Linked DNA regions of Homo sapiens: region 2 is linked to region 1. The links come from fine-mapping of genetic effects on gene expression. A gene starts in region 1. The other region holds a variant in brackets. All regions are shown on one strand. Distances are from middle to middle. Region 1 holds the start of STRA8 (stimulated by retinoic acid 8). Region 2 holds the start of LOC107984123 (a long non-coding RNA gene).

The links. PIP is the estimated chance that this variant, and not a neighbour inherited with it, causes the effect. A credible set is the group of variants that fine-mapping cannot tell apart.
Region 2: its variant is the best candidate, but not a certain one, in a credible set for the expression of STRA8 in subcutaneous fat (GTEx, PIP 0.80).

Annotation. Positions count from the first base shown.
Region 1 is chr7:135,230,692-135,236,064 of GRCh38, forward strand. STRA8 (stimulated by retinoic acid 8) reads left to right here and starts at 3,147. Exons shown (of 9, transcript NM_001394401.1): 1 at 3,147-3,212.
Region 2 is chr7:135,314,612-135,319,984 of GRCh38, forward strand. It overlaps LOC107984123 (a long non-coding RNA gene), which reads right to left and starts at 3,122. Exons shown (of 6, transcript XR_007060540.1): 1 at 3,029-3,122. The variant G/A (reference allele first, on the strand shown) is at 2,229.

The DNA.
Region 1 (5,373 bases):
TTCTACAGCTCTTTCTACATTTTGAAGCACTTTCACTTATACATTAAACCCTTAAAATAGAAACTCCAAAAGCAGTCCCTTGGAAGTTGCTGCTGAGTTGTGATGACAGTATGAGTCTTTGGGAATTTTCACTATGGAGGTCTGGGGAGGGTGGGGACTCTCACCCTGGGACATGTCTTGATGGGGTCATACATCTGCCCTCCTATAGCAGGAAGTGCCCAGCCATACTGACCCAGCAATGCTCCCCATAAAGGAGTTTACTGTATCTGCAGGGTCCCTTGGAAGCCAATGTCTAGCCCCATGCAAAGGACACGGTGAGCAAAAGCCTATCTAGGATTGTGTCTCAGGCTCATCTTGGCAGAAGTGCTGGGAGCCCCTGACTGCAGTCAGAGAGTGCATCCCTCCATTGTGTCTCTGCCTTTTTCATTCTTTCCTGGGAGCCACCATCTGCAGACCTCAGCTCAAAGCTGAGGGTTTTTTGTTCTAAAAGTTACAAAATCTTGCATATATCTCTCTGTCCTAAGGTAGTTGATATTTAAGGGACCAAATGCCCCCCAAGGGGGCATGGAGTGCAGAGGACCAGAGAGAAGATCTTGAGCAAGTCCCTGGCCCTCTCTGAGCCTGGGGAGAAGACTCTTCACAGAGTTGTCCCTGAGGATGCTGAGCACAGTAAAGTCTCAGTATAGGATCCATCACTCTCATTTTAATTGGGGGATAAAAAGATAATACAGCCTGAAGTCCCGGCCTTTTATTTCATGAAATGGATGGACACTAACAAGGAGAATAAATTCAGAGGGTTATTCCTTCTACCAGAAAGTTAGGCCAAGGGGCGCAAAAAGGGGTGGCCATCCCGAGTTGGTATGAATGCAGGGATCTTGGAAGGCTTCCTGGGTGTTGAGCTGGATCTGCAAGGAGGGCATGTTCTCCAACTGGGAGAGAAGGAGAATATTTCCCGGCAGGATCTCTGCTGGGGTGGAGTATTTCAAGACAGGATCTATGCCACTGTGCTGGAGGAATTTCAGGGCAGAATCTATGTTGCTGGAGGAATATTTCAGAGAAGGATCTATGTTATTGTAGGGGGAGGGCATTTCTGGACAGGATCTATGTTCCTGTGGTGGGGAGGGAGTGTATTTTAGGGCAAAAGTTTTGCTACTGGGAGGAAGGGGTCAAGGTCAGAGGGTGGTGGTGTGTGTGGGTGTTACCAGGGATAACTCTTCATATCCAGAGCTAGTGAGAGGCCACCAGGAGGCCCCCAGTGTTCATGGCAGAGCCTTCTGCCTTGCAGCTATGGGGAAGATTGATGTGGACAAGATCCTCTTTTTCAATCAAGAAATCAGGCTGTGGCAGGTAAATAAGCTTCTTAGTAACTTTCCCCCCAGGACTACATTTTTTCTGGGTGCACATCTGCTTGTGTGTGTGGCAGTGGTTGGGGCGGGAGGTGGGGTGACTACATGAAAGGTTGAGGCAGGTCAGAGGTCAGTTTCCAAACCACTCTGTGTCATCTTGGTGCGAGGATAAGGCTCCCCAAGACAGAGCTTCACAAACCCCTAGGTCCCCAGCAACACGGCAGGTAGGGCTGGTGGTGGGAGGTTGGTGGTGGGAGGTGTGGGCAGGCCCAGGAGAGAAAAGTCAGGGAGTGGGGGTGGAGTGGGGTGGTGACAATTTCCTTAAAGCCCTGAGCGACCCTAGGTCAAGGGCTGCGTGACAGCCAGAAATGGGGCAGCGACCCAAGCAGAATTTTGGAGTGAAATGAACATTTTAAATTTTCCTAGAAAGGCCTGTCTCTACAAAAAAATTAAAAATTAGCATGGTGTGGTGGTGCGGGGCTGTAGTCCCGGCTACTCAGGAGGCTGAGGCAGGAGAATCGCTTGAGCCCGGGAATTCGAGGCTGCAGTGCACTCCAACCTGGGCGACAGAACGAGAACCTGTCTCAGGAAAAAAAAAATGCTAGAAGGGGAGAATGAGAATTGACCCTTACTGGAAGGTTTTTCTGTTTTTATGTGACGGTTTCTTTATATGTGGGACATCATCTCACTGACGTCAAACTTCATGAGTGTCTAAGCCTCCCAGGTACCCTACTGCGTGCTTTCCGTAGCGGCTCGTTGATAGTCCTCTCAGTCCCTGCGAGGTGGATTCTAATCCAGAATCCCCTGCTACGCCTGCTAAGCCTGTGACCCCTGTTTCACCCCTGCCTCAGGAGTGAAGGAGCTCACCCATCAGATGGCAGCAAGGGGGCGCCTGGGCGGAGCCATGCTTCTTGCACCGTGCACTGGCCCTGAGCCGGGCACTTCAAGGGGCTTTGTCCTGCATCTGCTACCAAATGTGTAGGGCCTCGCTAGTACCCCCACCAGTGTCAACCAGATATAGTGGGATCATGAGCATCACGAAATATTGCAGGATATAAGCATACAAGCAAAAAGAAGCCTAAACGAGAGTACATCTATATTTGGGAAGGAAAAATGAATTTTTTTTCCAAACTGAAAGAATACCTACTTCCTACTACCCAGAGTGAACCCCTTTTCTCTCTTATTCTTGATATTTTAATCTGAGCTATTAAAGGTCCCTTCTCTCCACCCCATTTTCTCCCCCCATCCTCTATTTCTTCCTGCCTTATTTAAAATGCTATTTCCCTTTCTCCCTTTTATGCGTTTATTTCCTTCATGCCGTTTTCTCATGTTTTCGCTTGAGGCAGCGAGCCTGGTATTTTGATTCCTTTATCTAAGGGGTTTTCCGTAACCCTCAGGACAACCCTGTAAGCTGGTGGCATTGCCCCATTTGAGAGATGAGAAAACTGGGGCCCAGTGCCAGGTGAGTGGAACCAGCTGGAGGGCATCTACTTAGTCCTCTGAGGACACATGAAGGCTGTGTGGAGCCCCCGAGCTGATTACTGACGCGAGGGTCCCCTCCCTGACCCCTCGCGACCCTGCGAGGTGAGTCAGCCCCGCCCCTCCCTCTTCTCTCTCCTCCCTTTTCTGTCGCCTTCGGACAACTTGTAACACTGTTTCTTCCACTGCCCACACGCCCATTGGCCCGTCACCACGCATCCCCATTGGCTGTGGCGGCCAGGGACAGGGCCGCGATTGGTCCCCACCCCTGTAACGAGGTGCCAGGTCTGTTTTCTGACCCAGACAGGAACCGCGATCCCCACTCCGGCGCACGAAGCCGGGTGACTGCTGTCCCGGGAGTGGGGACGTCGCGTGCACCGTTGGCGAGTAAGTATCCTTTGAACGCTCCTCTCCAGAAAGGTGCCCTTGGGCATATGAGTGTTTGTGTAGACTTGAAAGAATTCAGTGCAGCGGAGCCTAACAGGTGAACTTTTAGCGCGGGGTTCACAGGAGCCTTTTGTATCCGTCACTGTGGCTACCTACATTTTTGAGAGTGATTCTGGATGATGATGATGATGATGATGATGATTATTATTATTATCATTTTGAGACGGAGTTTCGCTCTTGTCACCCAGGCTGGAGTGCAATGGCGAGATCTCAGCTCACTGCAACCTCCGCCTCCCGGGTTCAAGCGATTCTCCTGCCTCAGCTTCCCGAGTAGCTGGAACTACAGGTGTGGGCCACCACGCCCGGCTAATTGTTTGTATTTCTAGTAGAGACAGGGGTTTCACCGTGTTGGCTGGGCTGGTCTCGAACTCCTGACCTCAGGTGATCCGTCCACCTCGGCTTCCCAAAGTGTGGGATTACAGGCAGGAGCCACGGCACCCAGCCAATTCTGGATTATTTTTACATAATTTGATATAGATAGAAAATCAAAGGAAGCTGTCTGTGGGTTGTAGTACATTATGCAGTGTATTATACTGTCTGGGGCTTGCTAATGAGAATGGATCACACTCAAATATTTTGTGGACTGATGCTTAAAAATGAACATTTCTCTGAAATTTGGAGAAGGTGAGGGCATTTTTTTTAAAGTTTAGTCTAGGGAGTTTTTTAAACGTCAGCTCTGAGTGGATATTAAAAAGTGTTTTAATAGGAAAATATGTGGTAATGAAAGTATGCTCTGCTTTATAGAGGACAATTAATAAAAATATGTCATGTGACAGTGTTAATCCTCACAAAATGCCCTTTTAGAAGAAGGTATCAACGAAGCTGCCTCCTAACTTTGTTAGACTGAAAGGTTATGTTTGGCAAGCTGATCTCATGAACAAGGTCGAACACAGCAATAAGTTTTGGTTTTCTTTGTTCACTTGTTTGCTTTTAGACAGAATCTCACTCTGTCACCCAGACTGGAGTGCAGTAGCATGATCTCAGCTCACTGCAACCTCTGCTTCCTAGGCTCAAGTGATCCTCCCAACTCAGCCTCCTGGGTGGCTGGGACTACAGGCACATGACGCCCAGATAATTTTTGTATTTTTTGTAGAAATGGGGTTTGGCCACGTTGCCCAGTCTGGTCTCAAACTCCTGAGCTCAAGTGATCCTCCTGCCTCAGCCTCCCAAAGTGCTAGGATTACAGGCAAGAGCCACTGTGCCTGGGCAGCAATACGTTTTTTAAAGGGGAAAATATGTTAGAGCTATGGCCATTCTGAAAGGCCTAGTATTATTTTGGGCTCCAGTTTCCTGCAGAATAAATGGGCTTTGCACAGAGAGAGTGTTCAGTAAACATTTGTTCATAAACATAAGGAAGTCTCCAAAATTCCTTAAGATGAAGCTTCTCATACTGCTATGTGCTCCATACCCCACTTCTATTGGTTATGAGTGGCTTTTTTTTTTTTATTGCTCCAGATACTCATAGAATCATGAGCATGACTTTTTTTTTTTTTTTAAGACAGAGTTTCACTCTTGTGGCCCAGGTTGGAGTCCAGTGGCACGATCTCAGCTCACTGCAACCTCCAACTCCTGGGTTCAAGTGATTCTCCTGCCTCAGCTTCCTGAGTAACTGAGATTACAGTTGCTTGCCACCACGCCAGCTAATTTTTCTATTTTTAGTAAGAGACGGGGTTTCACCATGTTGGCCAGGCTGGTCTTGAACTCCTTACCTCAGGTGATTCACCCGCCTTGGCCCCCCAACATGCTGGGATTACAGGTGTGAGCCACCGCGCCCAGCTGATCATGACCTTTTAAAAATAAAAACGTTCAGACTATAATCTAGTTAAAGAATTTTTACCTCCTTTATGCAGATAAAGAAATTAAGGCCAAACATGGTGGCTCATGCCTGTAAAGCCAGCACTTTGGGAGGCCAAGATAGGAGGATCATTTGAGCCTAGGAGTTCAAGACCAACCCGGGCAACATAGTGAGACCCTGTCTCTACAGAAAAATTAACCAGGCCCAGTGGTGCACGTCTGTAGTCCTAGCTACTCAGGAGGATGTGGTGGAAGGATTACTTGAGCCTAGGAGTTTGAGGCTGCAATGAGCCATGAGCTTGCCACT
Region 2 (5,373 bases), 84 kb after region 1:
TTGAGCTCAGTGATACCAGCCCTTCTCTGAACATACTCATTTTCCTCTCCTTTCTGTGTGCTTGATTGTTTATCTCTGTATTGTTCACCTAATTGTTTATAAATATACCTTTTGTTGTAAACTTCCTCAAGTCATCTAGGCAAAGAGGGGGGCATAGAAATGAACAGCAGGGACACAGGATGCTAAGAGTCCTGTGTGTCGGTGAGGAAGGGCTTAAAGACATTCACAGAAACAAGGAACAGCCCGGAGATAGCTTAGAGCCGGGTTTCTCAGTTGCGAGCAGGAGATGCCTCATCTCAGAGCATATGAGAATATGGGTAGGCCAGGCACGGTGGCTCACGTCTATAATTTCAGTGCTTTGAAAGGCCGAGGTGGGAGGATCTTTTGAGCCCAGGAATTCGAGACCAGCCTAGGCAACATAGGGAAACCCTGTCTCTACCAAAAAAAAAAAAAAAAAAAAATCAAATATATACACACATATATATATATATACATACATATACACACACACACACACACGTGTATGTGTGTGTGTGCGTATGAAGTACTTTTTAATTCCACAGAATCCCTTGCTGGGAGGAGTCTGTGTGTGTGACTCAAAGCAGCAGAAGAAAGCTTGCAAGCCCCTTTTTGGAGGAAGAATGAATTCTTCATGAAGCACTTCCCGACATTGAGAATGGTATGAGAATATGAGCCATAACCTCCTCTTCTGGTTGGAGGAGTCTGTCAACTCAATGCATGGATTGTAATTTTACCATAAGACTTGATCAAAAGAGGCATCCTGATTGAGGTTTGGAATTTTATAGCACTTTACAGTTTACAAAGAGTTTCCAATACATCTCGTTTAGGCCAGGCGCAGTGGCTCATGCCTGTAATCGCAGCACTTTGGGAGGCCAAGGCAGGTGGATCATTTGTGGTCAGGAGCTCGAGACCAGCCTGGCCAACATGGTGAAACCCCATCTCTACTAAAAATACAAAAATTAGCCTGGAGTGGTGGTGCCGGCCTGTAATCTCAGCTACTTGGGAGGCTGATGCAGGAGAATTGCTTGAACCCAGGAGGCAGAGGTTGCAGTGAGCCAAGATTGCACCACTGCACTCCAACCTGGGAGACAGAGTGAGACTCTGTCTCAGGGGGAAAAAAAGAAAACATCTCATCGAAGACTCACCATCATCTTATTGCTTCCCTCTGACAGATGAGGAGATTGAGGCTCCCTGAGGTTACAAGGCTTGTCTGAGGTCCACCAGAGGAGGAAGGTTCCACATAGGGACAAGTAGAGTTGAGGTCTGTCATCTGGTGTGGCCCTGGGCATACAGAGACAGTCCTCCAGCTCCCGGGAACAGACTAGCAGAGCAGGAGGCGGCACTGATGTGCAGAGAGCAGTAATGACAAGGCTGGGGATTTCTTGGGGGAAGGTGAATGCCTTTCCCCCTCTGACACCATCTATACCCAATACAGCCTTTCCTTCTTTCCAGCCTCCAAGGCTCACCTGACCTAGGCTCGTTTCCTAACACTCCCGTTCACCTGGCTCTCCCCAGTGGGTTTGTCCAGGTTTCTCCCAATGTGGCTTCCATGGTCCTGCCTCAGTGCCTTTTGTCACCCTGGGCCCCCCTCCATCTCCACCACCTGCTTCTTGTACTCGCGGCCTCCTTGGAAGAGCTCAAATTCCTCCCCCGTCACCTTTCCTGATTCCCCACCTGCCTGTGGCCTTTATCTCTGGTGCATCATGTGCCATTTTCTGCCTTGTATCAGAGATATTTTTCAGATGCCGCCTCTTCCTGCTTTTGCCTAGCTGGGCCATAAGCTTTCAGGGTCGGGAAGGTGCCTTCCCCCAGTTTATAACCCAGTTCCAGCAGAGCAACGTGCTCCCCAAAACCAGCAGCATCTCAGAATGGTGACTTCGTCATCTGGGTGCTGCTCTGAGGCTGTGAGAAAAACAGCAGGAAGAAAGGCCACTGAGAAGGAGAGGGATAGGTGCCCAGAACCCCCACTCTCAAGTTTGCCTCAGGGAAGCCAGAAATGTAGGAACACACAACTGTCTCCAGAAAATGGAATCTTCAACTCATTTCCCAAGTTTTTGTGTCGTTGCTGTTTAGGGGTTGTTTTTGGCTCCCGAGAGCTAGTGGCACCTCCGCTGAGTGACGTGAGTTCTTTGGTGCCTCCCACACTTTCTCAGAAGAGAATGCATGTGGCTCTTTGCTGGAAGGCTGACCAGCAGCAGGCAGGGGCC[G/A]GCAGCCATGCTCCAGGGAAGCCTGAGAGCCCAGCCTGGATCGTGGGTGGTCCCTGTCCCCAGACATCTGGCCTGGGCCTGATTAGGGCTACAGAACTGGCCCATGCAGTGGGTATTGGCAAGAACAGAGGGTCTTCCCGCCCGGGTCCACCCTGTTATGTTCAAGTGGCCAAAACAAGTTGGAGGGGGTGGTGGGGCCAGGGCTCAGGGCCCAGCTAGACAGATCATCAGATGAGTCACTGTGACTTGACTTCTCTGGGCCTCAGGTCTCTCATCTGTAAAATGGGAACAGAAGTGCCTGTTTCCATTGGCTTGTTTGGAAGAAAATAAAGTTCAGAAAGTGCTTAGGGCATACTGGCTGCTCAATAAAAGTGACTTCTTTCTCTCTCACACTTTGCTTCCATTCAGAGAAAGCTTCTGAAAAGAGAAACTGAAATGCAACCTGGAAAACAGGCCTTCAGATTCAACAGATCCACCCTGTGCATTAGGGTGTCGCAAACGGGATCAGTTGCTGGGATTACCAGGAAATCCAATCTTCTAAATCTTCCCCCCTCCTTTGTAATTTACCGTTTATTCGGGGCGGATTCTGTGTCTGTTGTGATGGTGACCACAGGTGACACTAAGGGGCACTAACGCTGGAGGTGGGGAGGGAGTGCTGCATGGGTCTCATCATCTGAACCCTGATCTAAAGCATGAGGCTAGGCCTTAGCACTAAGAAGGAGTCAGGGCAGTAGGACCTCCCCGCAGCCCTTCTTCCTGCTCCCCATCTTTCTCTCCCTCTGTCTCCCACCGGGCCTTACCGAGTAAGTGGAGTGCTCACGGCTAGTGACGGCGGAGTTCATGGCAACTGGGGTCTTCTTCTGGCTTCCTCTGGGGAAGCAGGACAGGGAACACCAAAAAAAAAAAAAAAAAAAAAGTGAAGCTGCCTCAGGAGCCAGAGATTAATTTCTCTAGGCAGGACTCTGCACCAAGGGCGGGTCCTGGGACTACCCAGGCAGCCCTCAGGAGGGAGGGGCCTCCAGCTCCTACGTGCCTGCTCCTCTAAAACAGACTCCCGCTCCAGCCTGTCCTGCAGGGAACCAAGGTGCATTCGGTTGCAGGAAATGTTTCATAAGTTTCGGTAGCTGCAGAGGAGTTAATGATCCCCCACAGCACTCAGGAAACCAAGGGGAGGACAGCCCATCAGGGTGTAGCAGAAGAGCACTTTCTGGAAACCAGGTTCGAGGGGGCAGAAAAGGAGGGGGATGAGGGTGAGGCTCTGGCTGGAACATCGAGGCTTTTCCATTTTCTAAGCTGATTCCTTGTGACTGGTTGAGCTGAATGGAAATCGTTGCAAAATAGCTGGAACAGCGTGACCCCTGAGATGCCTAATGAGATGATTAATAGGGAAGAAGATTACGCCTTGTCCTGGCCACAGCTGCTAAGGCTTATGGGTAGGGCAAAGGCCTCACAAGGCTCAGGTGAGAGCCTGAGAGACAAATGCTTCTAATCCTTCATGCTTGTTTCCCAAAGACCCAGAAACACCTGATAATCTGCCTTCTAAAGACAGAAGTCCAGGAAGGTGTAGTTTCGCTGTTATTCTGCACAGAACACTTGAAAGCCCGTCCTCAAAAGCTCTTGATCAAACCCCACTTCATGAAGTCCAAAGCAAGCAAATACCAGCTCCTCATGGTGGCAGAATGTTCTGGAAAGGGTGGCACTGGCTCCCAAGGTTCACGAAGTGCATGACAGGACCCACATAAAGTCAACGGGAGTTGGTCCAAAAGGAAGCCCTGAAAAACATGACGATGAGATTGTGGAAGGAAAATAAATCTTGGGACCCCAAATCACTAAGCCAAGGGCAAAGTCAAGCTGGCCTCAGGCAAACCTGCCTCCCATTTTTTCCTAAATAAGATAGCTGCAAAGATAAAAACGCTGCATACCTCACTCGCAATTTGCCCACGAGGAAACTCCTTGTGGACCTCAAGATCTTTACCCTGAAACAGCTCTGTGGAATTTCACCCTAGGAGTATAAACTGACAGCTGATCTTCATAGGTGCAGGACAGAAAGTCATCCCTCTGCTCACCAGAGACAAATACATGTCTGATTGCTTCCTCTGCCCTATTGTTTATGTAAAAATGCAGATTCTGGCTGGGCTCACACCCATAACCCCAACACTTTAGGAGGTCCAGGCTGGTGGATCACTTGAGGTCAGAAGTTCGAGATCAACCTGGTCAACATAGCGAAACCCCATCTATACTAAAAATAAAAAATTAGCTGGGTGTGGTAGTGCACACCTATAGTCCCAGCTATTTGGGAGGCTGAGGCAGAAGAATCACTGGAACCCTAGAGGCGGAGGTTGCAGTGAGCCAAGATGGTTCCACTACACTCTAGCCTGGGCAACAGAGCAAGACTCTGTCTCAAAAAAGAAAAAAAATGCAGATTCACTGAGCCAAACTAAATTATGTATTCAGTGAAAGGCTGATCAAGGATGCAAAACAAAGCAAACTTATCTACGCCCTATGACCTGGAACCCCCCCCCCCGCACCCACCACCATGTCTCCCTAAAATGTATAAAACCACCTTGGGCACATGTCCTCAGGACCTCCTGAGGCTGTGTCACAGGCACATTCTTAAACTTGGCAAAATAAACTTTCCAAGTTGATTGAGGAGACCTGTCTTAGATATTTTGGATTCAGAAGATGTTTGAAGAAGGAGAAGACAGATTAGGCTTGGGCTGTGACAGAAAAACCAAGATGAAGAGACAGTCAAAAGCTGCTAAGTCACTGACTGTTACTGAACACTTGGCTTTGTACACCATGCTCTGCCTTTATATGTACTCTCTTATTTCATCTTCATGACACACCTGGCATTCACATCTTTATTTATAGATTAAGAAATTCAGAGAGTTGGGCCCAGTGGCTCACGCCTGTAATCCCAGCACTTTGGGAGGCCGAGGCAGATTGATCTTGAGGCCAGGCGTTCAAGACCAGCCTGGCCAACACGGTAAAACCCCATCTCTACTAAAAATACAAAAGTTAGGCATGGTGGTGCGCACCTGTAGTCCCAGCTACTCAGGAGGTTGAGGCAGGAGAATCGCTTGAATCCGGGAGGCGGAGGTTGCATTGAGCCGAGATCATGCCACTGCACTCCAGCCTGGGTGAC